4 linked regions of the Homo sapiens genome follow. The protein of the gene in region 2 interacts with the protein of the main gene of each other region in a biochemical or structural test. Each region holds a gene or a part of one and is shown on either strand. Other genes may lie near its edges.

Evidence for each region.
Region 1: the proteins of VEGFA (region 2) and HIF1A form a complex in vitro, tested with the Homo sapiens proteins (one study listed by BioGRID).
Region 3: the proteins of VEGFA (region 2) and NRP1 form a complex in vitro, tested with the Homo sapiens proteins (8 studies listed by BioGRID, with this or other methods).
Region 4: the proteins of VEGFA (region 2) and TFAP2A form a complex in vitro, tested with the Homo sapiens proteins (one study listed by BioGRID).

What each region holds. Positions count from the first base shown.
Region 1 is NC_000014.9:61,740,402-61,747,810, reverse strand, and holds part of HIF1A (hypoxia-inducible factor 1-alpha), read right to left. Parts: intron 7,307-7,409; coding exon 7,184-7,306; intron 7,057-7,183; coding exon 6,623-7,056; intron 3,107-6,622; coding exon 2,998-3,106; intron 2,121-2,997; coding exon 1,994-2,120; intron 878-1,993; coding exon 726-877; 3' UTR 1-725.
Region 2 is NC_000006.12:43,765,242-43,773,562, reverse strand, and holds the start of VEGFA (vascular endothelial growth factor A, long form), read right to left. Parts: upstream 3,353-8,321; 5' UTR 2,857-3,352; coding exon 2,251-2,856; intron 1,596-2,250; exon of another isoform or gene 1,462-1,595; intron 1-1,461.
Region 3 is NC_000010.11:33,184,301-33,191,709, reverse strand, and holds part of NRP1 (neuropilin-1 isoform a precursor), read left to right. Parts: intron 1-5,218; coding exon of another isoform or gene 5,219-5,221; coding exon 5,222-5,493; intron 5,494-5,985; coding exon 5,986-6,082; intron 6,083-7,409. UniProt on the Homo sapiens protein: Cell-surface receptor involved in the development of the cardiovascular system, in angiogenesis, in the formation of certain neuronal circuits and in organogenesis outside the nervous system. Mediates the chemorepulsant activity of semaphorins.
Region 4 is NC_000006.12:10,411,675-10,419,634, reverse strand, and holds the start of TFAP2A (transcription factor AP-2-alpha), read left to right. Parts: upstream 1-4,560; 5' UTR 4,561-4,643; coding exon 4,644-4,694; exon of another isoform or gene 4,695-4,954; intron 4,955-7,243; exon of another isoform or gene 7,244-7,960.

The sequences.
Region 1 (7,409 bases), on a different chromosome or scaffold from region 2:
TCTCTGAATTGAGAATTTTATCCAAATAAATGCCACATACCTTCTAGATATATGCATATCTTTCTATATTATGTAAATGGCTTTACCCATTTAAATAATAAACCATACAGCATTTAAGAATCATTATTATATGATTAACAATGTCATGTTCCAGGTTTAACAATTTCATAGGCCAAAAAAAATTTCTTCTTAAAAACTAGTTTTATAAACGCAGAATATATTCCATGAGTAACTGCTGGTATTTTTTAAGAAAATATATTGTGCAATTGTGGCTACCACGTACTGCTGGCAAAGCATTATTATTTATGTAAAATGTGAAAAAAAAGGTGTAAAAATTTTTCAACTGCCTATGATCATGATGAAAGGTTACTGCCTTCTTACAAAAATTATATTGGCATCTTCTTAAAAATAATTCGAAAAAGGGATAAACTCCCTAGCCAAAAATAAATAAATAAAAAGGTGCATTTTTTAAAATGATGCTACTGCAATGCAATGGTTTAAATACCAAAAAACTGAGAAAATGAGCTGTCTGTGATCCAGCATTAAAGAACATACTAAAAAAGAGCATTAATGTAAATTAAGTAGAAAGGGGATCAAAATTGAACTAACCAAGTTTGTGCAGTATTGTAGCCAGGCTTCTAAAATTAGATGTAGAAAATATAAATAGACTGCTTTAGGTAATGAGCCACCAGTGTCCAAAAAAAGGAATGAAATTAAGAAAAAGCTCAGTTAACTTGATCCAAAGCTCTGAGTAATTCTTCACCCTGCAGTAGGTTTCTGCTGCCTTGTATAGGAGCATTAACTTCACAATCATAACTGGTCAGCTGTGGTAATCCACTTTCATCCATTGATTGCCCCAGCAGTCTACATGCTAAATCTGAAAAACAAAAGAGATACCTAAGTATACATTCATCTAGTCAATGAATATTTATTAAACACCCACAATGTGTTAGGTATCATAGAAAATAAAGCAAAATTCTGGAAGGGTTTTTAGTTTACCTGGCAAAACCACAACTATGTTAAAAAGTAAGTATAATCCAGTGATACTGTTGCTGTGTCAGAAATGTTTACAGGATACAATAAAGGCACAAAGAAATAACAATTTGGAAAAAGGCATAAATATGGTGGGCATCAAAGCTGATGCCTGTAATCCTAGCACAGGCTGAGGCAGGAGGATCACTTGAGGCCAGGAGTTTGAAACCAGCCTAGGCAACATAGTGAGACCCCATCTCTACAAAAAGCAACCGGGTGTGGTGAGGCATGTCTGTAGTGCGAGCTACTCAGGAGGCTGAGGTAGGATGATTGCTTGAGCTTGAGCACAGGAGTTTGAGACTGCAGTGAGCTATGATCATGCCACTGCACTCCAGGCCTGGGCAACAGAGCGAGACCCTGTCTCAAAAAAAAAAAAAAAAAAAAAAGAAGTCATAAAAGTTCACAAATTTCAGCTTCTATCAATATTGACAGCACATGGACATAGAGAAATCAAAGAAAATTACTAAAAATGAAAAGCTCCACCTTGAAATGTTAATCTCTGTATTAAGACCATCACATGAAATACAACTGTACTTTTTTTTTTTTTTTTTTTTGAGGCAGAGTCTCACCCTTGTCGCCCAGGCTGGAGTGCAGTGGTGCCATCTTGGCTCACTGCAACCTCTGCCTTCCGGGTTCAAGCAATTCTCATGCCTCAGCCTCCCAAGTAGCTGGGATTACAGGCGCCCGCCACCACGCCCAGCTAATTTTTGTATTTTTAGTAGAGACGGGGTTTCACCATGGTGGCCAGGCTGGTCTCCAACTCCTGACCTCAGATGATCTGGCTGCCTCGGCCTCCCAAAGTGCTGGGATTACAGGTGTGAGCCACCGCGCCCAGCCACAACTTTACTTTTTAATCTTGCTAAGGAACCAAAGTCATTCTCACTTAGATTAAAGCTCCTAAATAAAAATGTTTCATGTATTTTGTCTTTGTGATGTTCAAGGTCAAAAAGAATAAACTAACCAGAGGGTATTAAAATAATTGTCTTTTGCTCCATTCCATTCTGTTCACTAGATTTGCATCCTTTTACACGTTTCCAAGAAAGTGATGTAGTAGCTGCATGATCGTCTGGCTGCTGTAATAATGTTCCCTATAAACAGTAAAGTTATTTCAAGTTTAGTTTGTTGAATTTTTTTTTTAAACAACCAAAAACCTTGAAATTGGTGTAAATTTAATAACATTATAGGCAGTTTCTTAAATACTACCCTAAATTATTTTGAATTCTTTCTTAAGTTATTTGTCATCCATTATGACCATTCTGTCTATAAATACTTTCCAGTTAATTTAGTTTGAAAATATCAGAATGTATTATACCACCATTGACTTACCCCAAAACATAGCAGTTCTTTTTTAAATATGAGATGGACTCTCACTCTCTTACCCAGGCTGGAGTGCAGTGGCCTGATCTCAGCTCATCGCAACCTCCACCTCCCGGGTTCAAGCTATTCTCCTGCCTCAGCCTCCAGAGTGGCTGGGATTATAGTTGTGCACCAACACGCCTGGCTAATTTTTGTATTTTTAGTAGAGACAGGGTTTCACCAAGTTGGCCAGGCTGGTCTCGAACTCCTGACCTCAAGTGATCCTCATCTTGGCCTCCCAAAGTGCTGGGATTACAGGCGTGAGGCACTGTGCCTGGCCAATAGCAGTTCTTTTAATAAGGCAAAGTAACTTAAAGGGAAGAGAATGAGATTGGTGGTGATATTCAGGGTGGAGTAAGGGGAGAACTTCACTTTTTAACTCAAAATACACTGGAATTGTTTGGAATTTTTATACCAAGAATGTATGTATTAAACATTTGTATTTTTAAAAACCAGTGCATACAGAGTAAAAAAACCCAATGTATAACTTCTGAAAATATAACTTTACTATTTGGAAGAAACGTGGAAACACACACACACACACACACACACACACACACACGAAATAGCACATTAGCTAGAAAAGCAAAACCTACTACTCATACTTACAATTCCTACTGCTTGAAAAAGTGAACCATCATGTTCCATTTTTCGCTTTCTCTGAGCATTCTGCAAAGCTAGTATCTTTGGATTTAGTTCTTCCTCAGGAACTGTAGTTCTGAAAAGAAAAAAATTCTAAATGAAAATATAGCGTTTTTAAAAAAAATATCCAGTGAGCGCTTTTAAAGAAAATACATAATTCTTTAGTTCTCCAATATTAAGGAATATAATATACATAAGATAACTTTCCTGATCACTAAAGTTTATCATCTTAAAAGTAAAAGCTTAATTTTTTTTTTTTTTTTTTGGTGAAACACGGTCTTACTCTGTCAGCCAGGCTGGAGTGCAGAGACGTGATCTCTGCTTACTGCAACCAAGCCCTGCCTCTGGAATCAAGTGATCCTCCCACCTCAGCCTCTCAAGTAGCTGGGATTATGACTAATTTATATATACATATTTTTGTAGAGACAGGATTTCACTATGTTGCTCAGGCTGGTCTCAAACTCCTGAGCGCAAGTGATCTGCCCACCTTGGCCTCCCAAAGTGCTGGGATTACAGGCGTGAGCACCTGGCCGTCAAAGCTTAATTTAACAGGAAATTTTCTACAGTATGCGTATCCCTATTTTATAAAATAGAGCTGAACACAACTAAATTGACACTATTGTAGAGTCAAAACAGTTAAATATTGTCCTTTTATTCCACCTAATATAACAATGCAGTGATATTGTTGGGACTATTGAAATACAAGATCAATCTCACATTCGTATAGCATTTTCAGTTTATAAAACATTTCAAGTTCATTAGTTCATTTTAACCTTACTTAAGTTCCCAAGACAGATAAGGCAGGCATATCATACCCATTTTATAAATTAGAACCCTGAGGCCTATTGGGTAACTTTCTCAAAGTCCTACTGCTCACTAGTTGCAATATGGAAGTACACTCTAGGTCTCCAGATCCCTACCTCCCCTCCCCTGCTCTTCCCACTATGCTATTTTTCACTCAGTATTGATCTGGTTATCAAACATGAACTATGTATATCTAAAATTAATATTAAATTGTGAAGAATTGTTCTAATGAGTAAAGTACATCAGCTTTGTTACATTATTTTGACTTTTCAAGACACCCCACAAACCAAATGCATAATCATAATGGCTCCTTGCTGTTCCAGACAGTTGAGAATGCCAAATAGGTAAGTGATCTTATTTTGCAGTTTTCTTTGGTTTTTAAAAAATTTCTCTAAAACTTCTATTATATAGACAGGGAAGTTTAAAAATTCTTATACAGATATATTGTCTTTATGAAATGTAACTCAGTCTATTATGTAAATATCATTGTAGTAGTAGTAGTACTTAGTAATTACGTTTTTAATGGTTTATCTTAATTTTTGAAATTCCTTTCATAAAAGTTTTCAGTGTACACTACATTGGAACTAATGTTTAAAAACAGTTGCTAGCTGGGCACAGTGGCTCACAACTGTCATCCCAGCACTTTGGGAGGCTGAGGCAGGTGGATCACCTGAGGTCGGGAGTTTGAGACCAGCCTGATCAACCTGGAGAAACACTGTCTCTACTAAAAATACAAAATTAGCTGGGTGTGGTGGTGCATGCCTGTAATCCCAGCTACTCGGGAGGCTGAGGCACGAGATTTGCTTGAACCAGCGAGGCGGCAGTTGCGGTGAGCCAAGATCCGAGATCACGCCATTGCACTCCAGCCTGGGCAACAAGAGCAAAACTCCGTCTCAAAAATAAATTGCTAAAGTGACTTGATGTGTTGTTACACTTTGGCTTTGACAAGTACAAGAGAACAGTTGTTCAGAAAACTGGATATCCCATCCTCTGTAGCTGATAGTAAACTGTAACTTATAAGTGATTGTCATTTTTACTACTGTATTCATGCATCTGTCAGTCCAACAACTTTTTTTTTTTTTTTTTTTTTTGAAACCGAGTTTCACTCTTCTCGCCCAGGCTGGAGTGCAATGGCACGATCTCGGCTCACTGCAGCCTCCACCTCCAGGGTTCAAGCAATTCTCCTGCCTCAACCTCCCAAAGTAGCTGGGATTACAGGCACGTGCCACCACGCCCAGCTAATTTTTGCATTTTTAGTAGACCGGGTTTCACCATGTTGGCCAGGCTGGTCTGAAACTCTTGGCCTCAGGTGATCCACCCGCTTCAGCCTCCCAAAGTGCTGAGATTACAGTGATGAGCCACTGCGCCCTGCCTCAACAACCATTTATTGAGGAAGTACTACACATTAGGTCATGAGCTAAGTATTAGTATCACTAAAATGCCCAAGACACTGTGATTGCCCTCGTGGAGCTCAGAGTCAAAAGTGAGTAAGTGACACAGTAAATAAAGTAATGTAAAGTACTTCTGAGTTCATCTAAAGCCCCAATGTCTTTTCCAAGCTTAGGGAAAAGACCTCTCCCAGCACTCTAGGTCAAGGTGGGAATGTTAGGCAGGGAAAAAAGCTATGTGTTCTGGCTACGACAGTGGTTCTTTCCTATTGCTATTGATATCTGGCTTAGTCTAGACATAGTAGAGAAGGAATCATTTCCCTTTTCCACACACTTATTAGATAAAACTTAATTTCTTCTAGCTATAGCCTCAAACTTAAAATATGTGAAATCCCCTTACAAATTATATACAGAAAGTATAACTTAAAAATTGGGTCATGTCCATATGTTTGTTTGAACTAGCTCCATAGAAGTAACAATTCATGCTTAGATTCCTGTTGTACAGTTTGAAAACCTATGTAGCCTGCAATATATATATAGCTAATGTTCTACAAATACGTAATGAAAAATAAAAGCAACTTTAATACAAGTTAACTATAATAAAATTTTAAAAGAGGGGCCTGTAAATATCTATATTGAATGCTGAAGATGGAAGGCTCAATTTGGAATGTGCAATTGGAAATAACCCTTAAATTGGAAGGGCTTTTCTTCAGATAAGCTTAAAAAAGAGCTCTAAGAAATGGAAGCATCTAAGTAGTGAGGGTAGTTAACTAGTCTGATTTAAACAACTGTAAGAACTTTAAACAAGTTCTGTAAACACATTTACAGTACTGAGCTGGATTTTATTTTAAAGGTGTCAGAAGACCCTCCTCCATTTAGATAGGTAATTTTAGAATTTATAATTATTTTAGAAAAAATAGGAGCGGGCATGGTGGCTCACACCTGTAATCCCAGCTCTTTCGGAGGCTGAGGCAGGCGGATCACCTGAAGTCGGGAGTTTGAGACCAGCCTGACCAACGTGGAGAAACCCTGTCTCTATGAAAAATACCAAAAAAATCAGCCGGGCGTGGTGGTGCATGCCTGTAATCCCAGCTACTCGGGAGGCTGAGGCAGGAGAATCTCTTGCACCCAGGAGGCAGAGGTTGCCGTGAGCTGAGATGGTGCCATGCCATTGCACTCCAGCCTGGGCGACAAAGCGAGACTCTGTCTCAAAAAAAAAAAAAAGAAAGAAAAAGAAAAAATATATGAGGTTAATTTAGAAAGTTTTTTGAGTTCTCAAGAATTTGCGTTAGGGCATATATATCAGAAAGTTTGCTATAAGTTTAAAAATCATGTACTATCACATACATTTATCTCAAAAATAATAAAAGAACTATAACTTGAATGTTACATATAAATACCTTTGACTCAAAGCGACAGATAACACGTTAGGGCTTCTTGGATGAGATTTTTCTGTCTGTTCTATGACTCCTTTTCCTGCTCTGTTTGGTGAGGCTGTCCGACTTTGAGTATCTCTATATGGTGATGATGTGGCACTAGTAGTTTCTTTATGTATGTGGGTAGGAGATGGAGATGCAATCAATATTTTAATGTCTTCCATACGGTCTTTTGTCACTGTTTTTAATTCATCAGTGGTGGCAGTGGTAGTGGTGGCATTAGCAGTAGGTTCTTGTATTTGAGTCTGCTGGAATACTGTAACTGTGCTTTGAGGACTTGCGCTTTCAGGGCTTGCGGAACTGCTTTCTAATGGTGACAACTGATCGAAGGAACGTAACTGGAAGTCATCATCCATTGGGATATAGGGAGCTAACATCTCCAAGTCTAAATCTGTGTCCTTTAAAACAGCAAATACATGAGTTTTTACAATGGCCACACCTTATAAATAAAAAACAAGTGAAACTCAAAGTCACTTCAGACTAAAAATTAATGAAATTTAATATAAAACAAATAAGTTCATATACCTGAGTAGAAAATGGGTTCTTTGCTTCTGTGTCTTCAGCAAAAAGTTTTTCTACCAATTCCAACTTGAATTCATTGACCATATCACTATCCACATAAAAACAATATTCACTGGGACTATTAGGCTGTAAAAAGAAATATGTTTACTATTTCCTGAAGAAGCTTCCATATACTTTGCTAGTTGTCAGAATTTTCAAACTAGATCTCAGAAAAACCAGAAAACACACA
Region 2 (8,321 bases):
CAGGGACCAGGGAAGGCTTTTATGCCTTGGCACTGCCCAGCCCCTAGGGGGCCCCCTGCACCACCTTAGGCCTGAGGCCTCCTCTAACCCTCCCCACCCGCATCAGATCATTCCTCCCCTCGCCAGAAGCTGTGAAGGTCAACACGCCAAGACATGCGGACCTGACAGCACCCAAAAGGAAAGGCTTCTGCCAGCCCTTCCTGGGGGTCTCCAGCTCTCACCAACTCCCCTCCCGCCCAGCACTCGCAGAGCAGAGGGGCACTCTAGCCTACGGAACACCAGACCCTGCTAGGGGAGAGTCCCACTGTCCATCTTTCTTTCCCTCTCCTTCCCACACACCCCAAATGCACCCCACTCAGGTACCCCAGCCCTGCTCCCAGAGACAGCCAAGGTCACAGGAAGCCCCTCTCAAGAGAAAACAACAGTTACCAGGCTTCCAGCTGGACAGCTTACCACTGCGGCTCCTGCAGGGACCCCCTGGATTCTGCACCTCAGCCCCCTCACCCATTCCCATGACACCCCCTGCCTTCCCCCTGACAATATTCTCCCGGGACCCTCCACTCCTCCTGGGCCCCAAGGAGGAAAGGGGACGGAAATTTCATACCCCTTCCAAGGCCAGGGAGCACAGGAGGGGCGGTTCTAGGCAGGCAGGGGCCAGGTGTCCTTCTCTGGGGGCCTCTGAAGGTCACACTGTGGCCAGGCAGCCACTCCTCCCCCTCCTCCCTACTTGGAGGCCTGTAGCCAAGGCCTTTGTGCCAGGGTCTGAGGAACTTGCGGTGTTAGCAGCGACCCCTGTCCATGGCTTTCCTCTTGCCTCCTCTCCAAGGGAATTCTGGCTGAGGGAAGGCGTCAGAGAGGAGCGGAAAGGGACCCTTTAGAGTCCCTTTCAGAAGCAAGTTGGGTGGGCAGGTTTGGAGTTCCAAAAAAACACCTGCTCCAGGGCTGCCTTTCACCAGGACAAAGTGTGTGCAAGGCTGGCAGGAGCTCCTTTCCAGGGTTCAGGAAGGACTATTCCCATGCTGCCCGTGTCACAGCAAATTTCAAGCCATTTCTCCAAAAGGGTAAAGTGGGGCAATGACTCTTCAAATCCTCCCTTGACCCACCCCCACGAGAGCTAAAGCACAGCTCACTCGGAACTGTTGGCGAGGGAAGGGAAGCACACTGTCACCAAGTCGGGACTTTCGGTGGAATGTGACAAAGCGCCCAGTGGGCTCCCGCGCCACGACTTCTGACAGTGATCATCCTTTCCCTGGACTCTGGGGCCAGAAAGGGGTTAGATGGATCTTCTCCGCAGAGAGAAATGAAAATAAGCGGGGTGACAGGGGCTTCTCTCCAGGCTAAAAAGGAAATGGGTGAAGAGAAGGGGCGTCAGGAAATTCCTCCTAGCACTGGGCAGAGGTAGGGTCTGGAGACAGTAGGAAGGGGTAGGGATGGTTCTCTGGATCCCCGGGCTGGGGCTACCTCGAGAGGTCACCTTCCCGCGGAGGGCTGGCGGGGGGAGGGGTGCCGCTCGCCACTCTGGGCTCCCCATTCGGGCAGCCGAGGCTCCGGGAACACGCGGCCGGCCAGGCCCGGGCTGATGTAATCGGCTCCGCGCCGCGCGCACCCGGCCGGGCGGGGGAGGGCGGGCACCGAGCGGGACGCGAGCGGGGACGGGCGGGGTTGGCGCGGCGCAGGTGGCCCAGCAGGGAGGGGGGGTCCCCGCAGCAATCCACCCCAAAACTTTTCCCAAACTCGCGGCGAGGGCTGAAGAGACCGAGTGGCAGTGACAGCAAGCCCCCTCTCCCTCCTGCGCCCTGCCCCCTCCACGCTCTCTGCCCTCCCGCGGTCCAAGGTCCGAGCACCCCCTGCCCACTGGTCTCTGGCTCCCGCCCCCGCTGCTCAGACTTCCAGTTCGTCCGGGACCAGCGGCCGGGAGCAAACTTCAGCCGGCAGCGGCAACGCAAGCCCAGCCCCCTCGGCCTCCTCCTCCGGCTCCCGCCCTCGGCTGGTCGGCCCAGATCGTACGTGCGGTGACTCCGGTGGGTGGGCAGGGCCCGCGTGGGCGGTGAGCCTCTCTCCGGGTACCCTCCCACCTAGCGCGCGCGCCCCCTCCCCCTGCACCTAAGACGACAGAGGGGGACGCCGCACGCCTGGTGCCCATGGACCCGCGTGGGGCACGGAGCCCCCACGCGCGCGCTCGCACGCACGTCCCCAGCCGGGAGAGGCGCTCGCAGCGGCCCGCGGCGCCAGCAGGGCACGACCGCTTACCTTGGCATGGTGGAGGTAGAGCAGCAAGGCAAGGCTCCAATGCACCCAAGACAGCAGAAAGTTCATGGTTTCGGAGGCCCGACCGGGGCCGGCGCGGCTCGCGCTCCCTCTCCGGCTCGGGCTGTGGGGCGGCCCGCTCTCCTCGGCGCCTCGGCGAGCTACTCTTCCTCCCCGGCCCGAGGCCCGGGCCAGGGCCTGGGGAGCGCGCGCGGCTGGAGCACTGTCTGCGCACACCGCCGCCTCACCCGTCCATGAGCCCGGCTTCCGAGCGCCGAGTCGCCACTGCGGCCCCCTCTCCTCTTCCTTCTCTTCTTCCTCCTCCCCCTCCTCCGGCTGCGGCTCCTCCCGGCCCGAGCTAGCACTTCTCGCGGCTCCGCTCGGCTCGGCTTCCCCCGCGCGGACCACGGCTCCTCCGAAGCGAGAACAGCCCAGAAGTTGGACGAAAAGTTTCAGTGCGACGCCGCGAGCCCCGACCCCCTCCACCCCGCCTCCGGGCGCGGGCTCCGGCCCCTGCCCGCGGCTCGCCGCCGCGTCCACTGTCCGCCGCCGGCCGGGGAGGAGGTGGTAGCTGGGGCTGGGGGCGGTGTCTGTCTGTCTGTCCGTCAGCGCGACTGGTCAGCTGCGGGATCCCAAGGGGGAGGGCTCACGCCGCGCTCCGGCGGTCACCCCCAAAAGCAGGTCACTCACTTTGCCCCTGTCGCTTTCGCTGCTCGCACGCCCGCGCGCTCTCTCTGACCCCGTCTCTCTCTTCCTCGACTTCTCTCTGGAGCTCTTGCTACCTCTTTCCTCTTTCTGCTGGTTTCCAAAATCCACAGTGATTTGGGGAAGTAGAGCAATCTCCCCAAGCCGTCGGCCCGATTCAAGTGGGGAATGGCAAGCAAAAATAAATTAAAACGAGAAACAATACAGTTTTAAAAAAAAATGTTTAAGAAAAAAGAAGAGGGATAAAACCCGGATCAATGAATATCAAATTCCAGCACCGAGCGCCCTGGCCGGTGAGTCCGCTGACCGGTCCACCTAACCGCTGCGCCTCCCGACAGAGCGCTGGTGCTAGCCCCCAGCGCCACGACCTCCGAGCTACCCGGCTGCCCCAAGCCTCCGCGATCCTCCCCGCTACCAGCCGACTTTTAAAAAAAAAAGGGGGGGGCGCATGGCTCCGCCCCGCCGGGACCCCGCCCCCGGCCCGCCCCGGGGGGCGGGGACAGGCGAGCCTCAGCCCTTCCACACGCGGCTCGGGCCCGGGCTCTGCGGACGCTCAGTGAAGCCTGGCCCGCAGCCCGCCGCAATGAAGGGGAAGCTCGACCCCCACCAAGGTTCACAGCCTGAAAATTACCCATCCGCCCCCGGAAACTCTGTCCAGAGACACGCGCCCGCGGGGCATTGGCGAGGAGGGAGCAGGAAAGTGAGGTTACGTGCGGACAGGGCCTGAGAGCCGTTCCCTCTTTGCTAGGAATATTGAAGGGGGCAGGGGAAGGCGGAGAGCCGGACAGGGACGGGTGGGGAGAGGGACACACAGATCTATTGGAATCCTGGAGTGACCCCTGGCCTTCTCCCCGCTCCAACGCCCTCAACCCCACACGCACACACTCACTCACCCACACAGACACACACGTCCTCACTCTCGAAGACGCTGCTCGCTCCATTCACCCAGCTTCCCTGTGGTGGCCGAGCGCCCCCTAGTGACTGCCGTCTGCACACCCCGGCTCTGGCTAAAGAGGGAATGGGCTTTGGAAAGGGGGTGGGGGGAGTTTGCTCCTGGACCCCCTATTTCTGACCTCCCAAACAGCTACATATTTGGGACTGGAGTTGCTTCATGTACAGAGAGCCCAGGGCTGGGCACAGGGGCCACAGTGTGTCCCTCTGACAATGTGCCATCTGGAGCCCTCATCTGGCCTGCAGACATCAAAGTGAGCGGCAGCCAACAGGCTGGAGTGACTGGGGTCCTTTGGGAAGTGTCCAGGGATGCTTCCCAGGGGAGAAGAATTTGGCACCAAGTTTGTGGAGCTGAGAACGGGAAGCTGTGTGGTTCCGGGGTTAGTCAGTGACTGGGAGGGAAGAGGACCTGTTGGAGCCCACGTATGCACTGTGGAGTCTGGCAAAACCCAAAGGGGGAGGCAGCTGGGCAGACAGAGGCCCTTGTTCCTGCTGCCCCCCCAACCCCAGATGTTGCCAGGGAACTGAGGCCAGGGGGCTGGTGGGGGCGGGTGGAGGCCAGGGCCTGCGTGATGATTCAAACCTACCCGCCAGCACTAAGGAACGTCTGTAGGCCAGCTGCCCAGAGCTCCCACCAGGCCAGGGGCCAAGGCTTCTATCAGCCCAAGCCCAGACTCATAGCTCATCTTCTGAATAGAAATGGGGGTTTCGTCTCAGCTCCCCCATTCCCTCAGGATCCCTTGGCTACTTCTCCAGGCTCACAGCTTCTCCCCTATCCTTCCCCCAGTCCCCTCCCTTACCTCCAAGCCCCCTTTTCCTCCAACTCTCCACATCTTCCCTAAGTGCTCCCAAAGGCCCCATCCCATTCTTGCATATAGGAAGCAGCTTGGAAAAATTCCTAGCTGGTTTCTGACCTGGCTATTTCCAGGCTGCCCCAGGGAACAAAGTTGGGGCTCTGAGGCCTGTGGGAAGAGTGGGACCAGTCAGTCTGATTATCCACCCAGATCTTGCCAGGGTCTGGCCTACAGCTGGCATAGCCTCTGTGGAGGCATGGACTGAGAATGGGAATGCAGCAATTTCCCTCAATTTAACCAAAACGCTCCAGGGAGCTTACCTAGTCAGCCCCATCCTCAGCACATGTTGCTGTGGTTTGGTGGAGGTGCTAGGTTACCTCCCCAGTACCCCCAGTTCCATCGGTATGGTGTCCTAAGGCCCTTATGAGGAAAAGGGCTGGCTCCCACCCACCCCAACCCTCCCTTTCCATCATTCGTGCACTAGTCCTGTCTCCACCACTTGGCAGGCTCCCCAGCAGCAGGGACAAGGTCTTTGTACAGTTAGTAAATGTTTATTTCCTGGCTCAGGGCCCCCTCCCAGGCAGGCCTCCTCACCTGGGCTCCATGCTCTAGGCTGATGAACGGGATATGGAAGGGAAGCCACTAACTTTCCTCCTTGTGCGCCTCTAGCACCCCAGGAGCACAAGCTGTAGACATCTTGGGGCAGGATGGAGGCTCTGAGCCCTAAGGGCTCATTCTGGCCCCCTCCCTTGCATCCCTTCTCAACTCGGCCTTCTTCAGCCCCTAAAAGAGCCAACAGACCTGAAAGAGCAGGTCTTAGTAAAAAACAAATAAACAAATCTGAAGCTAAGAGGAGGCTGGAGGGGTTCCAAGGAGGGATAGCCATCACCAGTCACTCCGTGGCCCCAGGCACCCCCCACCCCCATAAGCCAACTGTCCTCCATGGTGGTACCCAGCAAGGTGTGTTACAACAACCTGTTTGTGTTTCCCTCTGGGGCTTTGCCCAGGGATCCAGGGGAGTGAGGGCACAGAATTCCTTTTATATAAGGCTAGGATTACAACCTGGCCTAGGGGTTTTTGAGCTACCTTCATTAGGGCGAGAAAGTATGGCCCACCTCCCCCCTTCATTGTGGAGATATAACCTGGCTGTGACCTGGAGGGGTTAACTCTGGATCCCATGCCCCAGTGTGTTGTCACCGGCATTTACAACAATGTACTCTTAAGGACTCAGCCAGTGCCCACATTGTCACCAAATTAAAAGCTCAAGTCACCTAGTCACCTGAGCTTTCAAAAAAGGGGAAAAAGCACAAAACAACAATCACAAGACCACATGTATCTCTGTGGCATCTTCCCTTCCATGGGCTTAGCCCCCTGAACAACTTGACTTCACTTATCCTCACCTCCCTCCCCAGGCTGCTTGCTGCAGGGGAAGGGGCGTCAGAGCAGACTGTCTCCCCAAAGAATCCTCCGAAGGCCCAGAGAGGGCACAAAGGGGCCCAGGGTCACCTAGCAGATTGGGGGAAGGGGCAGTGAAGCAGAGAGCAGCCCACACAGAGGTCATGCTGGCTCCCAGTTGAGGGGCAAACTCGGCCCCGCTTGGAGGGCCTCACCTTGGGAGCGCAGTGGCCACTCCCCACAGTCTGTGGCTCTGAAGGCAGTTCAGAAGGAGCCAAGGAGGAAGGGGAAGGTGTTCCAGGTGAGGGGGAAGGGGAGAAAGGGGTGGGGGTGGAGAAAAGTGCGAAAGGCAGCCAGGAGCCAGCGGCGGCCCCAGACAAAGAAAGTAGTGATTGGGCCAAGGCACAATAGTTGTACTTTGTCCTGATGTCCTGTCACCTCCAATATTCAGGGAAACTCTCGCCTGTGTGGGTGTGGGTGGTTAATCTAGAAGCCGGTGGATGAAGGGACAAAATCTCTCCTGAGATTGGAAAGAAGGTGAGGAGAGAGTCACTGGGTCTTGCTGTTTTCCACACATTTCTCCAAGTGGCTTCACTGCAATGGAAGGAGGTCTTGTCCTTCACTCCATCCCCTGACCCCCAGGTGACTAGCAGGACACTGATCTGCAGGAAGGGCAGGATACAAACCTGGTGAATTGAAGGAGAGAGAATTGGGTTGGTTCCCCTCAATTCCCTGACCCTGACTGTGGGTCAATCTCTGTCTCTCTCTCTCTCTCTCTCTCCCCGCCTAGGTCTTTGCAACAAAGCATTAAAAAGACAAAGAGAAAGCAAAGGAAAGGGCCTCTTTGGTCCAGTGCCAATGTCCTAGCCCCATGTGGATCTGGAGGTTTGACTTGAGGTAATGATAAGTAATGATGGCCAACTGATAAAAAGATTGGAGCAGAGGAAGCCAAGGAGGGTAACTCTCCCAAGAGGATCCAGTCAGGAAAGGGGGAAGGAATGGGGAAGAGGACCTAGCTGGAGAGAGGGCAGGGCAGAGTCACTGTCTGGGGAAGCTCACCTACCCACACCACCCCTAGGCCCATCAGCCTCTGCCTCTCCTTCATGGGCCCCAGTCTAATCCCCTGACACTAAGCTGTCCCTGATGAATTGCATCTCCCCAACACCCCCAGGCATGCTCACCTTCTGACACTCCAATCTCTGCTATTCCTCCAAGTCTGACCCCAAAACATGCCCATTTCTGCCCCTGTTCACATCCTCCACCCCTACCCTGTCTTGGAGGGAGTCCTTCTGCTGGGAAGAAGGTATGGCATGTGGTGGCAACTAAGGTCCCAAAGCTGTATCTGCCCTTTTGACCTGGGCCTTGCCTGAGAGCTGAGCTAAGCTCCAATTTGTGAATATTTGTAGGGACTACCAGGCACCAGGCTCCATGCTGATTTTATAGGAGGTACAGGGACATCTAGGTAGGGCAGTGGAAAGTACAGGGACTTTGGATTCAAATGGACCCAAGTCACATTCCTGGCTCTGCCACTCACTGTGTGGCCTTAGGTTATTCAACCTCTCTGAGCCACAGCTCCCCTCATCAAAAATAGGAGTAAAAATCCCTGCCTTAGAGAGTTGCTGCACACAGACAAATGTGCACACAGCTGCCCCAGAAAGCAAGATGAGAAAGAGGCCCTGGGGGAGGCACAAGTGTTGTGAAGGTATGGAAGCAAAGAGCCAGACTGGCTAGAATGGGCATCTGGAAGGGCTTCCTGCAGGAGGTGGCTTGGGACATGTATTCCACAAGCAATTATTAAACTCAGCTTGTGATCTCTGCTTTGTGTTGCACCCTGGGACTACAACAGTGTCAGTGGGGGCTTCCTGTCTGGAGGTAAACCAAAGAGTAAACCAAAAATGGGAATTCTCTGAGGAGCATTTAATTGCTGGGAGTAGGGGAAGGCTTCCTGGAGATGATACTTGAGTTGGGTCTTTTTTTTTTTTTTTTTTTTTTGAGATAGGGTCTCACTCTGTCGCCCAGACTGGAGTGCAGTGGCGCCATGTCGGCTCACTGCAACCCCTGCCTCCCAGGTTCGAGCAATTCTCCTGCCTCAGCCTCCGGAGTAGCTGGGACTGCAGGTGCCTGCCACCACACCTGGCTAATTTTTGTGTTTTTAGTAGAGATGGTGTTTCACCATGTTGCCCAGGCTGGTCTCGAACTCCTGACCTCAAGTGATCGGCCCACCTCTGC
Region 3 (7,409 bases), on a different chromosome or scaffold from region 2:
ACCGCAACTAGCCTCATCTTATACTTTTTCTGAACTTCTTATTTTGGGCAATTTCAAACATATTCACAAATGGAAAAGAAATAGTAGAATGAATTCTCTATGTGCACGACCCTGCTTCAACAATTATCAGATCATAGGAAACTTAATTTATGTCTGTCATCCCTGACTCTGAATTATTTTCAAACAAGTCCAAGCATATATTATGTCCCCTCGTTTATTTTACAACTAAAGAAACAATTCACAATGCTTGCTCTCTCCCGACCCTTGAAGGGGAGGTGGGGAAAGACGGTGTGGAATTCTTATTCACTGGGGAAAGATTGAAAGTGTAGTGTATTTCCTTTGAGCAGGTAGAAACCTCACCATGCCCTAGATCACAACCCTCCCACCACCTCCTGCCTTACTTTCTTCCTAAGATTAATTGGTGGGGGAGGAATGGGTTGGGGGACAGAAAAAGCTGGCAGCTTCTCCAGTGAACTCTATTATCTGCCCCCTTCCTGCTACCCACCTAGTCATTTCACTGCCCAACTTGAAGTACAGTATAAAGGACCAGCAGACTGGACGTGGTGGCTCACACCTGTAATCCCAGCACTTTGGGAGGCCAGAACAGGAGAATCAGTTGAGTTAGAGAGTTAGAGACCAGCCTGGGCAACATAGCAAGATACTGACACTACAAAATAAATTTTTTTTTTAAAATCAGCCAGGCATAAGGGCGCACACTTGTAGTCCCAGCTACTCAGAGTCTGTTTTAGGATCCTTTGAGCCTAGGAGTTCAAGGCTGCAGTGACCTATGATCACACCATTGCACTCCAGCCTGGGTGACAGAATTAGAACCTGTCTCTAAAGAGAAAAAAATAAAAATTAAAAATAAAGAAATAACCAGCCATGTCTGGCCCAACACACATGCACACACACACACATACACACACACACATATACACACTCACAACAAACGCCCAATCCATGAACTTCTGCACCCACTCAGAAATACTTACAGAGCACTGCTTGCTCAAGTAGTGGCTTCCCAAAAGGTACCCCAGGGGGGCATTTGCTGATGCTAGGAAATCTCATTAAATTCTCCCCATCTTGGCTCTTTGGGTGAGTGAGTCAGTGGACTGAAGGCTGGGCCAAGGGTACTTCATGCCTTTCCCATTTTGTGGTTCACTTTTCTCCCAGTGAATATAACCATTAAATAGGTTGAATAGGCCTCCTTCCACCACAGCCACCTCCTTGCCTAATGAGAATGACAAGGAAATTGGATAAAATTGGACTCCTTCAAATCTGAGACACTTTCAATTGAATCTTAAGACAGGCAGTTTTAGAAAACTTAAAATACTTTGACTGTAAATGGCACTGTACATATAAATGGCATCAAATTAACTAAATGCAATTAGCCAAAATGAAGGCAGTAATGGTGGAAAAATTGATGCAAAGTGAAGCAAAATGGCTCAGTAGGATCTGACATTCAAAGGAGGTTAAAAGCTATGTTAGCCAGAGACAAAAGCTAAAAGGCTTGCAGAAGTAAAGTGCTAATTGAGAAAATGAAGACAGAGTTCCTGACCCAGAACTGTGATAAAACCCTTGAAAGGGAAAATATCAGTGCTTTATGTGTTAGAGTATCAGAGAAGGAGAGCTTGTCGTAGATTAACAGCTGAGAAGTGCGATTCCTTCAGAAGGGTTTGACTCTTTTGTTCTCTCAGCCACCCAGATTTACTTGGCAGTTGTGCCAGGTCAGCTCCGACTAGAAAGAGCCCCTGCAGTTCTAGAAACACAATCATTTGTGTAGAGAGATGGGTGAGCCCGACATCTGAAAGGCAGGAACTACTTGTTAACGGGAAAAAGATCCAGATGAAAAGAGCCCTTCACGAAGCTCCCGCGCATAGACTGACATTAGAGAGTAGATGGTGCTTTTTTTATAATATTATTTGGTGAAACTTTGCAAGCCAGACATTGGGTTGTTTAAAAAGAAAATGAACACTAGCTAGGTAAAATATCCTGCTGCTTATCGAAAGGCATCCCATTTGCTTGGTTTTCTGCATTTGACCTCAAAGAATGGAACTAGGTACCTCCTTTCAGAGGATTCCTGAAGTCTGGCATCTCTCCCTGGTTCAGTGAACAAGTGGTATTTGAGAAGCTCTGTTACAGGGCAGATGCTGACTTGGGCACTGGAAATACACGTGTAAAGGAAGAGGTCCCTACGCTTGAGGAACTCGCAGTCTGATCATGGTTGGGAAGCAACCACAGTGCAGTTCAGTGAGGGCTTCCAATGGCAGAGGCCAGTGACAATGGACCATGTAAAAGATGACGGAAGAGGGGTCAAGGAAAGCAGCCCTGTCTCAGACACCGGCTGAGCTAGGCTTATTTTACTGGCTCATGTTTGGTGTGCTTTGCACAGGTTTTTGTATGGGAAGCAGTTAGATAGAGGCAGAGTGTGCATGACTTTGGGAACTACCTCCTTGCCTAATGAGATTGACAAGGAAATTGATGAAATTGGATTCCTTCCATTTTCACTGAGTAGAGCAGAAGTTTGTGGATCGGGTGTTTATTGTGAGTGAGTGTGTGTGTGTGTGTGTTTGGCAGGACACTGCTGGTTCTTTATACTATACCTTAAGTTGGTGATGCAGTGACCAGGAGGAAAACAGGATGGGGGTGGATAAAAGGTCCATTGGAGGGGCTGCCAGCGCTCCCTCTTTGTGAAGAAGTGTGGATAGGCTGCAGGCAGTGAGCAGCCTCTGAAGAATTCTAAGCAGAGGAGCAACACGAGCAGTTTTAATTTATATATATATATATATATATATATATTTAAGACAGGGTCTCTGTTGCCTAGGTTGGAGTGCAGTGGTGTGATCTTGGCTCACTGCATCCTCCACCTCCCAGGTTCAAGCGATTCTCCTGTCTCAGCCTCCTAAGTAGCTGTAGTCCCAGCTACTTAGGACTACAGCTATGTAGGAGCTACTACAGATGCCCGCCACCACGCCCGGCTAATTTTTGTATTTTTGGTAGAGACATGGTTTTGTCATGTTGGCCAGGCTGGTCTCGGACTCCTGACCTCAGGTGATTCAGCCACCTCGGCTTCCCAAAGTGCTGGGATTACAGGCGTGGACCACCGCGCCCGGCCACACGAGCATATTTAAAGACCACAGTGTGAGAAGGCAGGGACCATAAGAACTTCCTCAGGCAGAGGATTCTTGAAATCTGGCATCTCTCCTACTGCACTGAACAGGCATCATTTGAGAAGCCCTGTTACATGGCAGGTGCTGTGTTGGGCACTGGAAATACAGGTATGAAGGAGGGGGTCTCTGTGCTTGAGGAACTTACTGTCTAGTTGTGGATGGGAAGTGATTATGGTGCAGTTGAGTGAGGATGTCCTATGGGAGAGCATCCCTCTACCTACGTCCACTTCTCTCCTTCTTTCTAACACCCATTCTCTGACTAGCCTCAATAAACTTTGAGCAATGAGCTCAATAAGTGGGATTAAGACATGGCAGCAGCATTGCCAATTTCAGTCTTTTTTCCGTAAGATTGAGGGGACAGAGGCACGATGGGTGTATTTTTTTCCCATCGTGGTGGATTCATCACAGTGAAATGGCACCATCCCACAGACAAGTAATCACATCTTGATAAATTAGTGGGCAAAACAAATCCTAAGTGTGAATGGATCAGCTCAGTCACAGAGGACACCTGCAAGGTCAGAGAGCGAGAGGGACATTCATCCTGCAGTATCAAACCTACTGCTAGAGCTGCCATTTGTGAACACCCTTCCTTTATGATTCCACCCGTTGGTTTGAAGAAGGGCGGGCTCTCACATAAGCAACCAGGTAAGGAAAGGAAGCTGCCCATGAACACGTCCACATCCACCTGGACACTGTTGACACAGGCAAGCGGAAAGGAGTATGTGCCCACGTGTGCACAGTGAGAAAGCACCTTGCAAACACACAAGTCTCTTGGGCAACAAACACAACCTCTTGCTGCCCACTGAGGCCCGAGCAGCAGATTCACACTTAATCAGGTGAGGTGTTAGAGAAGATGATTTCTATTTGCAGAGCCAACAGTGAAACATGAGCTGTGTTGACCAGGTGGTGGCAGGAGGAAATGTTCCCAGTGGGGGTCATTAAAAGCGAAGCCAAGAGAAAGTCCTCGCAGTTCAGCAAGTGTCTAAGTTGCCAAAATGGCACGTTCTAATGAACCTCAACAAGGCAACCTTGCCTCTCCTTGAGCCAGAAGCCCACATCAAATAGAAGCAGGGCTCACAGTAGAGATTCAAGCTCTCAGGTGTGTTTAAGGAATTCGAAAACCATGAAAACAAACTACGGGAAAAATAATCTGAACTTGAAAAGTATAAAAAAAAAGATTACTACATTATTAGGAAAAACTACAGGTTTATGATTATCAAGCAGTCATAGTGACAGAAATTTCATTAATCAGAAGTCCTGCTGCTCAAATGATAAATAAAAATACATCTCAATGATTTCATTTAATGCATGTGTTCACATGGGTGCCGCAGTGTGATCTTAAAGTTGCATAAAAACAGGGTTTCTTGGGCCCAGCGTGGTGGATCATGCCTGTAATCCCAGCATTTTGGGAGGCCAAGGTGGGAGGATTGCTTGAGGCCAGGAGTTTGAGACTAGCCTGGGCAACATAGCAAGATTCTATCTCTACTTAAAAAAAAAAATTAATCTTTTTAAGAACTAGCTGAGCATGGTGGCATGGGCCCGTAGTCATAGCTACTCAGAATGCTGAGGCAGGATGATCACTTGAACCAAGGAGTTTGAGGCTGCAATGAGCTATGATCACACCACTGCATCCCAACCTGGGCAACAGGAGTGTCTAACATAATAAATAAATAAATAAATAAGGTTTCTCTAAGAGCCAGGAGTTTTCAGTCCAGTCTATGCACAGACTTTGCTTTCAGTTTGCTTGTGATGGTGCAAATGCCAGCTTGAGGCATAGCATGTGTCCATATGAAAATGCATTCCATTATAAGTAGTATCCTAATTAGTGCCACTCAGCCTTCCCCTAATCAAATGTCCATTTTGCAAGAGCTGAGAGCAGGGCCTTAGGTGCCCATGAGGTCCCCAAGTGTGCACACTTATCCCTTTCCACTACGTATTTGGGTTCTTGGTGCTCAGCGCAGGAAGCTTTTGATTAGTGAGACTTGAAAGAAGAGAGATAAAAGTGTGGTAATCCTGGCCACTCTCCCTAACACAGTTCTTTGTCACAGCAGGAGATGGCAACTTCATCTATTCCCAAGCTGACGAAAATCAGAAGGGCAAAGTGGCTCGCCTGGTGAGCCCTGTGGTTTATTCCCAGAACTCTGCCCACTGCATGACCTTCTGGTATCACATGTCTGGGTCCCACGTCGGCACACTCAGGGTCAAACTGCGCTACCAGAAGCCAGAGGAGTACGATCAGCTGGTCTGGATGGCCATTGGACACCAAGGTGACCACTGGAAGGAAGGGCGTGTCTTGCTCCACAAGTCTCTGAAACTTTATCAGGTATGACCTCTTCCCAAGGCTGGGGAGGGCAGTGGCTGCAGGAATGCTGAGATGATATGTTGGAGGCTGTGCAAATGAGACATGGGAATTATTCCGAAATTATTTCCAGTGTTTCCCAACCCTGAGATATTGCTGCAATGATAACCACCTTAATAGCAGATTTCACAGTCTCCTAGATTGCAGGAATAGAACCAATTTGCTGAGAAGGAACACAAAGGGCTTCCGTGTCATCTATTTCTGGGCTTTCACAATGTATCATTCCTTTTGTTTGCTGCTTTCTCCCGTTTTAAAGTTTGTATTATAAGAAGAGAGTGTAAGGAGAAGGTGCATACCATCACCAGGCAGCTAATGTGGATTGATGAGTGAAGTCTGTGTTACGCTGAATCTGATGAATTTAATTTATGTGCCGTAGCTGGAGCTGAACAAGCATTTGTAAACACTGCCATGTGAGATGAGCATTTCAATACTGTGAAAATGATCTTATTTTGTTAGGTGATTTTCGAGGGCGAAATCGGAAAAGGAAACCTTGGTGGGATTGCTGTGGATGACATTAGTATTAATAACCACATTTCACAAGAAGATTGTGCAAGTAAGTATGAGCTGCTGTAGAAACCAATGGAGTGCTTGCCCAGGGCAAGACTCTTGCCAATATGATGGTCTTTGTTTTGCTCATTTCTACCTAGAATTTCGGTGTGGCCTCTCGGCACATCATAGGAAATGCGTATTCTGGTGCAACAGGGCATACAATCAGCCCAATTTACCTGTGTCTGCCCCGTCACCTACCCTAGGTCCTTCATAATGGCTGCTTGATACCTATAAAACTCCACAAATAATGCAGAATCCAAAGATGATAGCTAAGAAGACCCAGCTTACAAGCTATAGATGCCATACCGAAACATTTTGATGAACAGTGGAAAGTCAGACATCTGGATAATTCCAAATATCTGGGTGTATAAACAAAACAGCAGGCCTCTGAAAACTTTGATCAGAATAAGTTTAATTAAGAATGCATTGTTAATGAACCATAGAAGCCATAATTCTTTGCTTTATCACAAGTAGATGTTTCTGACTTTTAAAATATCTGAAATGACTTAAAGGACTTCAATGAGATTCAGAGACTTGGCCTAGTATTTCAGAGTTGGTCTTTATGGGTCTTGTACTAGGTGGATGTAAGACATAGAAAACCAATTCATATTCCCTAGTTCTTGATATATAATTACAAATAGCATTACTAATGGCAGTGTAATAGCACAGTAATTAGTCTTCAGCTCCATTTGCTACATTGAAACTTTTGTTATACATCATTATATAATAGGATGTTAATTATAACAAAATGGGATAAGCCTATTGGGCCAATTTAAGACAAAGGAGGTCTGTTGGCTGTAATGGGGGTTTTGGTCACTTCAGCAACTTACAAAGCTTTTATTATATAATATATTGAATATATATAATCCCTAAAGCGGCAATAATTTGATAGGATCCATCGAAGAAATTGGGCAAAAAGAAAGGAGCAATGAATAAAGGCTTGCTTCTTCATACTATTAAAGGGAATCTGCTTAGTGCTGCACTATTTAGCAAATCTTCACAAGAATGATAAGGCTTAATAGTTTAGTTGCAACTCCTTTACAAATTACCCACATCCATATCTACACTGCTGTAAAAATGTGTATTTCATGTAGTAACACAGTGTCTGTGATTTCTTCACTTCTCCATTCCAAAGTGAGAGTGATGATGGTGATGTTTTGGGATGTGAGAACAAACTCCACAGACTAAAACAAAGAAACGAAATTAAATTCAGTTCAACAAGTTCTAACGAAATTCAATTCGGTTCAACAAGTTCTAACTGACTACATACCATATGCAAAGCAGCATGCGGATGCTCCAGTGAAAGTACATGGCTGAGCCGGGTGCAGTGG
Region 4 (7,960 bases), about 33 Mb from region 2:
GGAGTGAATTCCTGGGCCAGCGCGCATGCGTCGGCAGGTAGCAACCCAGCTCTTTATGACCAGGTGAGATGTTGGTGAGCAGGTAAAAAAGGAGGATTTGCCTAAGCGATTCCAGGGAGCTGGCCCGACCGAGCCCTCCAGCCCATGCCCGGCGGGGACCAGTCGCCAGGAGCGCAGAGCCGCGATGTCCATACTTGCCAAAATGGGGGACTGGCAGGTACGGGGGGTTTGCCTTGGCTGGGGTTGAGGTGGGCAGGGGTGGAGTAGGGGAGGGGGCCGGAGCGGGGAGGAGGAGAGGAAGCGCCGTGGCCCAGGGCAGGGGAGTCGTAGGTGAGGCGCGCCTGGCAGCGCCCAGGAGAGCTCCCAGGAGACAGCGAAGACAGGAAAAACGGGCGCAGGCAGCGACTGCGGTGCTGGGCGCAAAGCGCGCAGCCCGCGGGGCCCGGCGCCGGGGAAGTCCGGCGCACGCTCCACAGGTGGCCTGGTGGGTCACTTGTGGTTTGTGCTGTGGCCGTTTCCCCCACCCCCCTCCCACCTCAAGTAGAAACTTGGGAGGATGACTAATTCGGAAGGGGGGAGGGAGAAGGCCTGGGGTTGTGGTGCGCGGCGGTGAAGGTTTTCAGCCTGCTGCGCCTGCGGCCTCGCCCTAGACCCCAGGGTTGAGTGTTGGACAGGTTCTGGTGCACCTGTCTCTCTTGGTACCCCCAGATTTCGGGAGATCTAGGATGTGTGAAGAATGGAAAGGGGTCCAGATGGCTGGGTCGCGGAGGCAGCGTGTTTCTGTAGGAGATACAAAGTTTGCCCGAAGTTTAGCTAGCAACTCACTCCACTTCCTGAAATGGGTTTTTGCCGCCTGGGCTACGGATGAGGGAGTGTGAGAATGGTGGGTGAGGAGGCAGGGGGGTGGTGAATTTGCCAAAACCAACGCCTGTGGAACTTGGCCCTGCTAGGCCGCGGACACCACAAGGCATCCAAGGCTTGGCTCCTGTCCTTCCTGAGCCCCGGATTCCGACCCTGGCCAAGGAAGCATTTGTCCAGCTCTCTCCTTCCAACTTCCAGACACTTTCCCTTCGGGAAACAGAGCGGCTCTGGCCAGGATGGTGGCGGTAAAAGGCTCTGCCTGTCGCCGATTTCATCATCAGAACCGCGAGGCCCTGTTTTCGCCCCAACCAAGAGGCCTGGTGAGGGTGAGATTCTGTGTGCCCAAAAGCCCAGGGGACAATTCGAATCTAATGCCCTGAACTTCCCCCCAAAAATCTGAGGCCTTGCTACTCCTGGTCGAGTTCTTTCTCTTGTTTCAGATTTAGGCCATTAAAAGTAAAGTTCTGAGAAGTGCAGTCTTCACTAAGCTACCTGGAGTTGGAGAAAGAAAGGCCTTTTGCGTTCTGTACTTTTTTCCCTTGGATTTATTACTTTTATCAAGAGTGAGCTCTTTTATATTCTTCTCCCTAGTTAAGCCTCACTAAATGGTATTTCATCCGCAAGTTTAGACAAACCTCGTGGTTTAAGGATGCAAATCCCATACCAGAGACAAATCCCGGGAATCCACACCTTTCCCTTCCTGACCCTGTGGGCTAAAGGCCCTTCCTAACTCTCTTATTTGGAGGCTGAAGACTGGGGGAGTCCTTTCGGAGCAGTCTTTGGGTTTTCTCCTCAAATTCCAGTGAATTTCGCTGCAGAATTCCTAGGCCGTGAGAAGGTGCCTGTTGAGTAGGTTTGGCCTGGGACTGGGCCTTCTGTGGGTTCGACTAAGGTTTGAAAGCCGCGAGACTGCCGCAGGAGGAGGAAGGAGGGAGCCGCGGGCCTGGCTCTTGCGGGCTCACAGTTAGGCAAGTGGCTGGAGGCCTGGATCTCGGGTGGGGCGAGCGGATTTGGGGCCCGGAGGGGCCGAATCTGATGGGCTGGGCCTGTTGGGCTCCCGGCTCCCACTGGGCATTGACAATCGGAGAAAAGAGAGTCGTTCTGGCCCCTCACTGTCTCTTTCTCTTTGTGACTCTGTCTCTCACACAAATACTCCCTCTTCCCCGCGACGCCCTTTTTATGCCCCCCACGTCAGGCCTGGATCTCCGACCTCCAACCCCAGGCCTGGCGCTGCTGTCCCGGGGTTCTGGCCCCGCCGGAGCATTGACATGCAATGAAGCGACTTAGCGTGGTAATGACGCTGGCATAAATGCAGCTCGGCTGGCTCCAGAGGCGACCCTGGCGCTCGCCCGGGCCTTTCATCAGCGCCTACACCGGGGGCGGCAGTCCAGAGCCGGCAGGTCCCAATCTGCACCTCAATGGCGCCCTCGGCGGGAATACAACAACAGTTTAGCAGCCCCAGCGGGTGCGGAGCCGGAGATCTGTTGGGCGCGGGGCAGCGGGGAGGTGGAAACGGGGGTTGAAATGGGGTGGCAGAGGATGGAGGGCGGCCTTTCCAAGCCCGCAGAGGGCAAGAAAGCGAAACTTGGAGTTCCCTTAAGCACACCGCGGCGACGTCTACGGAGTGTAAAAACCCATGCTCTCAGGCCTAGGGTTTGGCCTGCTCAGGCTATGGCCGCTGCTGGGAGGGTGTCGGTGCTCCTGGCAGCCCAGATCCTGACTTCAAACCACTGCACTGGCGACAGGCTGGGACAGCCCTGCAGGGTCTAGCCCTGGAAAGTCGACCATTTTCTGGACGGAGGGCGGCGCCAAGCCTCCAGCCCGGTTCAGCCGAGGAATTGTGCTCAGTTCAGGTAGGGCAAGGGAGGCCCAGAGCATGGGGAGGGCTTCCTGGGTCTGTAAGGCCCCTTGCCAGCTCCGGCTTCTCCCTAGCTTTTTGGAGCCTTCTGCCTACTCTGCTAGGTTTGGGGAGTTTGCTGAGGTGTTTGGAGGGAGAATTCCCCTTCTGCAGCCTTGGGTGGAATGGGGAGTTCTCCCAGCTCCTGCCTTCCTTCCACCTGTGAGGGAATGCTCCAATCTGCCACAGTTCCCATCCCCTTTTAGGAACGCCCGGTGGAAATATGGGAGGCCTGGAGATTTTCGAGAAACAAGCCCAGATGAATCAAAGGTCCTTACTAGAGCAACTCTGAGGCGGGACCTAGTGTAGTTAAGGAGTTTGTACATATAGCAGAGAGAAAAGACAGAGGTAACTTTCTTTTGGAGGACAAACGAGGAAGCTCAGCCAGGAAAATTAATTACTCTGTATTTCCTAGTGTCACATTAGGTCCTTTTCTTTTTTTTTTTTCTTACTTAAAAAAAAATCCCAAAACCGAAAGGGATAAAAGCCCCAGAGGACCCAGCAGGCCCCGGTGAGGAGTCCAAAAGCCCGGACTGACCAGTCTGGACGAGTAGGTGGCTCCCAGGCCTCCAGGTTCCGCGGCAGCCGGGCTCTGCCTCGCGAGCACGCCCGCGTTAGTAGCATCACCAAATCATGAAGGAACTCTCCCTGCTTTAATTAAAAAGGGGAATCTTGGGAAAACTAGAGCAGATTAACACAGCTAAAAGTCGGTTCCCGGTGATTTATTTTGATGCACGCACGAGACGGTATCTAGACTTGCAGGCACACACACGTCTGTTTTTAGGCTCAACTTCAGAAGCGGGTGTGCAGTTCCATAGGAGTTCTGTATTCGTGTCCACGTTGCACCCAGGAAACCTTAGCCTGAACACCAATTTGAACTGTCAGTTGGCCCTAGCTTCACACAAACAGGAGAAAAATTGTTTAACCCCTGGAGCTGTCAAGTAACCTCTTCAGGGTACAACTTTTATTTTACACGCTGCAATTAAGGGATTGCAAACCCCAGCAGAGCCACCGGAGCCGCTTGGCAGAATCTCCAACCTGGGGGAAAGCTCAAAGCCAATAAAACTCCCAAGGCGCTGCGGCCCGAGGGGGTGGCTGCCTCGAGCGGAGGCGATCCCTTGTTGGGAAAAAATCCTGGAGTGACTTCGCCGGTCTTGGTTTGGTGGTTATGTTTAATTGCGAAAGGGATAATGATTTCTAATAAAATTGCACGGGGCCAAAAGGGCAGCTCGGATCGTGGTAGCAGGGTTAAGGGAGAAGTGCTAGAAGCTGGGCCCCAGGCGTGGCGCTTGGACCTTGAGCAGTGCCGGGCTTTGCAGAAGGCATCTCTGGAGAAAAGGAAGCGGAGAAAGAAAGGAAGGGGAATGTGGCGGAATTGGGGTAAGAGAGGGGGTGTTGGGGCAGGGCCTCGCGGCGGAGCTCGAGGAAGGTTTTATCAGTTCGCAGGCTGGAGTGCGCTCTAGAAGCAAGTTCGCGGCGTAGAGAGGCCTTTATACCTGTGTCGGAGCGGCCGGCGGCAGATTGTGGTACTGGCGAGCAATTGGACTATTGTTGATATGCTAATGAGGCGATTAGGCTGTTGGTAAAGAGCTGGAAAAGGGAAAAGTTTCTACCATTAGAGGGAGATCTCCGAGCGCACACGGGAGCTCTTTCCCTTCTCTCCTCCTCCTCGCCCTTCTCCTCGCCCTCCTCCTCCTCCTCGCCCTCCTCTTCCTCCTCCTCCTCCTTGCCCTCCTCCTCTCCCTCCTCCTTCTCCTCCTCCACCTCCTCTCCCTCCTCCTCCTCCTCCTGCGCTCACCGCCGGCAGCCAGCACTTTGCGCTCACCCAGAGAGTAGCTCCACTTGGGTGCGAGACCGAGAGGGGCATATCCGTTCACGCCGATCCATGAAAATGCTTTGGAAATTGACGGATAATATCAAGTACGAGGACTGCGAGGTAAGCGCGACGCCGGCTCGATCATCCGTGCGGTCACAGGCTCCGAGCTTGACCCTCCCTCTCCTCCTCCTCTCCTTGCAACCAGCTGCGAAACGCGGGTGGGACAAACTTTCCCCAGCGCAGCGCCCGTCCCTCGGATTCGCCCGAAGAACGCGGGGGAGAAGCTGCAGAGAGAGGACGTGGATGCTCCCTTCTTTGGTTTCCCTACTTTGAAGCTCGTGTCCCACTTTACTCCCCTTTCTGACCAATTTTGGCTGTGCCTAAGAATGGGGGAAAAGAAGAACATGGGCTTTTGAAGCAATTGCTGGCAACTGGGCACTTGCCTGTGCACTCCTCGTGTTATCTTCATCGAGATTGAGGGCCCAAGTCACCAGGAACAGAAAGGAAAGAGAAAACTCTTTTCTCTCTTGAACTTCCTCTCCGATCTTTAATATTCCTTCTTCTTTCTATTCATTCATTCATTCATTCATTCATTCTTTCTTCCCCCCACCCCCACTTCTAAAGCGGTTCCCTTCTCGGCTTTAGAGACGGCCCCCCCACACTTCGCTGTGAGCTGGGCTGCATCTTCCTGTAAGCGGGTTCAACTTAAGACCACTGATCCCAGCTGCGGGGCTCGCTCCAGATCCTCTGTGCTTCACGAAGTTCTAAGTAGCTTCTCCCTCTGAGCTACAGGATCGACGCACCCCACGGGGGTGTGTGGGGGTGGGGTGGGGAGATGTGCTGCGCCGAGCCTGCTGGCCGCTGGGTGCGGGAGCACCAGCTTCTGCACCAGCCCAGAACGACCGTGGGAATCCTTGCGCGGCTGCAGACCACCTCTGGTGCCGCAAGCCCGCTGGGCCGACAGAGCGCGCCGCTTTGGAACCCATTTTAAAACGCAGAGTCCCCTGAGCTCGCCTTCTTGAGGCAGCAAGGGAGACCCTAGCGCGACCTGTCCACCCGCAGGAGGCGCTGGGAACGGTTACAACCAACACTGTAATGAGCAATGAGTCCGAGAGAGGGGTTGGGGTGTGTAGGGCTGGAGATTACCTAAATAAATAGGTGGCAGTCCCAACTTTTGCTGTTTTTTTTTTTTTTCTTTTTTGGCATTTGCAGCTGAGAATGTTAGGCAGGAGGTGTGTGTGCAGGCGCAGGGGCGGAGATCTTGACTTCACTCGAAACCAGAAATTGGGTTTATGTGAACGATGTGTCACCCGCTCCCTCCTCCCTTTTCTTTCTGAAGATTATTTTAAATCGTTCTCCTTTCAGGCCCCCCACCCCGGTAGATGGGGACGGGGTGACATCCCACGGGTACTGGCTCTTCCCTGGGGGGGTCCTGTCGCGCTAGAGGAGGGGCGCAGGGACCCCACGTCAGACCAGTCGCTTTGTTTTCGAGGCTGGGGGCGAGCTTTGCGGGCAGGTAGGAATGAAGCCGAACCCCTCAGTCTCATAGGACAATTCATACTGTACTGGTCTGGGCTTTGGCCGGAGGCTTGGGCATTTCACTTTCGCAGAGGCCGAAACCCAGCTCCAGGTGTGGGCGCCCTCGGCGGGCGGGGTCCGAACCTCCGTGCGGCTCTAGGTGCCGACTGGATGGGGTGGGTGGCTAGGTGGGGGATGAACTTGCACCCCTAGAGGGATCCTGTGGGGGCAAGTGTGAATGCGTGTGTAAGCGAGGCAAAAAAAGATGAGAGAGAGAGGAGAATAAAGTCAAAGCTGTTTCCACAACTTTGGCCGTGGTGGGCAAGCGCCGGAGCGGGGATTTCGGGTTTCGGAGCTGGCTTGGGGCAGTCTGATTGTGCCGGGGCTCTGTAGGGACACGCAGGAGGCGAGGTGCCGCTTGTTCTGACAACCTGGCGGGTAGACTGGCAAAGGCAGCACGCCGGGAGAGCTAGTCGTGTCATCTGGGGGGGCGTCAGGCGGGAGTGGCCCAGCCAGTCGGACGGGTTTTTGCCGGGAGCCGCGAGCCGGTGCCAGCGGCGCCCGGGCTGGGCCGCCTAGCGTCTGTGCGCGCCCCGGCCCGCATCCCGGCTCCCGATCCGGAATCCCCGGCCCCAGAGAGCCGAGGGCAGAGCGACGGTGGCCGGGGAGCGCACGGTGCCCCTGTCCGAGGAAAGCTCAAGAGGAGGCCGAGGAGAGGACCAGTGCAGCGAGCGGGCCGGTCCCGGGCAGGGCGCCGGGTCATGGAGGAGCCGCGCAGCAGCGGGCAGCCGAGTCCCGAGTCCCAGACTCGGCTGCGAAGCGGCGGAGCCCGCGGCCAGACAGGGCCGGGAAGCGCCTGCCGCGCCGAGAGCCCCACGAGCGCCCGGACGCGGTCCCAAGCAGCTCCTACCCGCTACGCACGACCCCCGCTGCATCCCGAGGTCTGCCCCAGCCTTTTAGGTCTGATTGTCCTCGCTCGCTTCCTCTCCCCTTCCCCCTCCCCCGCGGCCTCCCCCTCCGTGCGCTCCGGCTGGGCCCCCTCCCCCTCCCTCCCTCCCTTCCTCCCTCCCTCTTTCCCTCCCTTCCTCCTCTCGGGCTCTCCCTCCTTCCCTCCCTCCCCTCTCCCCACCCGGGGCTCCTCTCCCTCGCCCACACTTTCTTTCTCACACACGCACGCAGACACATTCTCCCTCTCTGCGCTCTCTCCTTCGGTCTCCCTCTCTGCCTCTTTCTCTTTCACTTTTGCATGCCCTGCAACCTTTTAAAATGTTGCCCCTTCCCTGTGATTCGCCAGACGCCGCGCCGCGGCCCCCCGCGCGCTCGCCCGCTCCCTCTCTCGCTCGCTTTTTGTCTCTCGCGCTCCCTCTCCCCACTCCGATTTGCTACACTGAGACTCCCGTCAATGGACTGCATTGAGAGCCGGCTCCGGCGCGAGTTGCCTCTCCGCTTCACGCTCGATTTCCAGGCATTCTTCCCTTATTAAGTATTCGTGTAATATTAATAGTCATGAATATCTGCTATTAGGAGGCTCCAGGAACGCTGCCCAGCGCGGTTATTAGAAGCTCAAGCGAAGCCGCCGCTAAGAAAAGAGGGGGAGACACGGATTAAGGAACACGCACGCACCCACACACTCACACATACTTTTTCCTTTTTCCTTTTTTGGGGTTTTTCATTTTTAAAGAACTTTGAATCATAACCAGTCGCGGCAGGATAGAGACCGTGGGTTCGACCAGCTGAAGGCGCCGCGCGAATCGGTGGTTCAAGTTCGGATGGATCCGAGCCGGGCTCCCGCGCTCCGGGGAGCGTCGGCGCCGTGACTGGAGTCCTGGGTGGCGCGGGGCTCTCGGCGCCTTTTGTGTGGGGCGCGC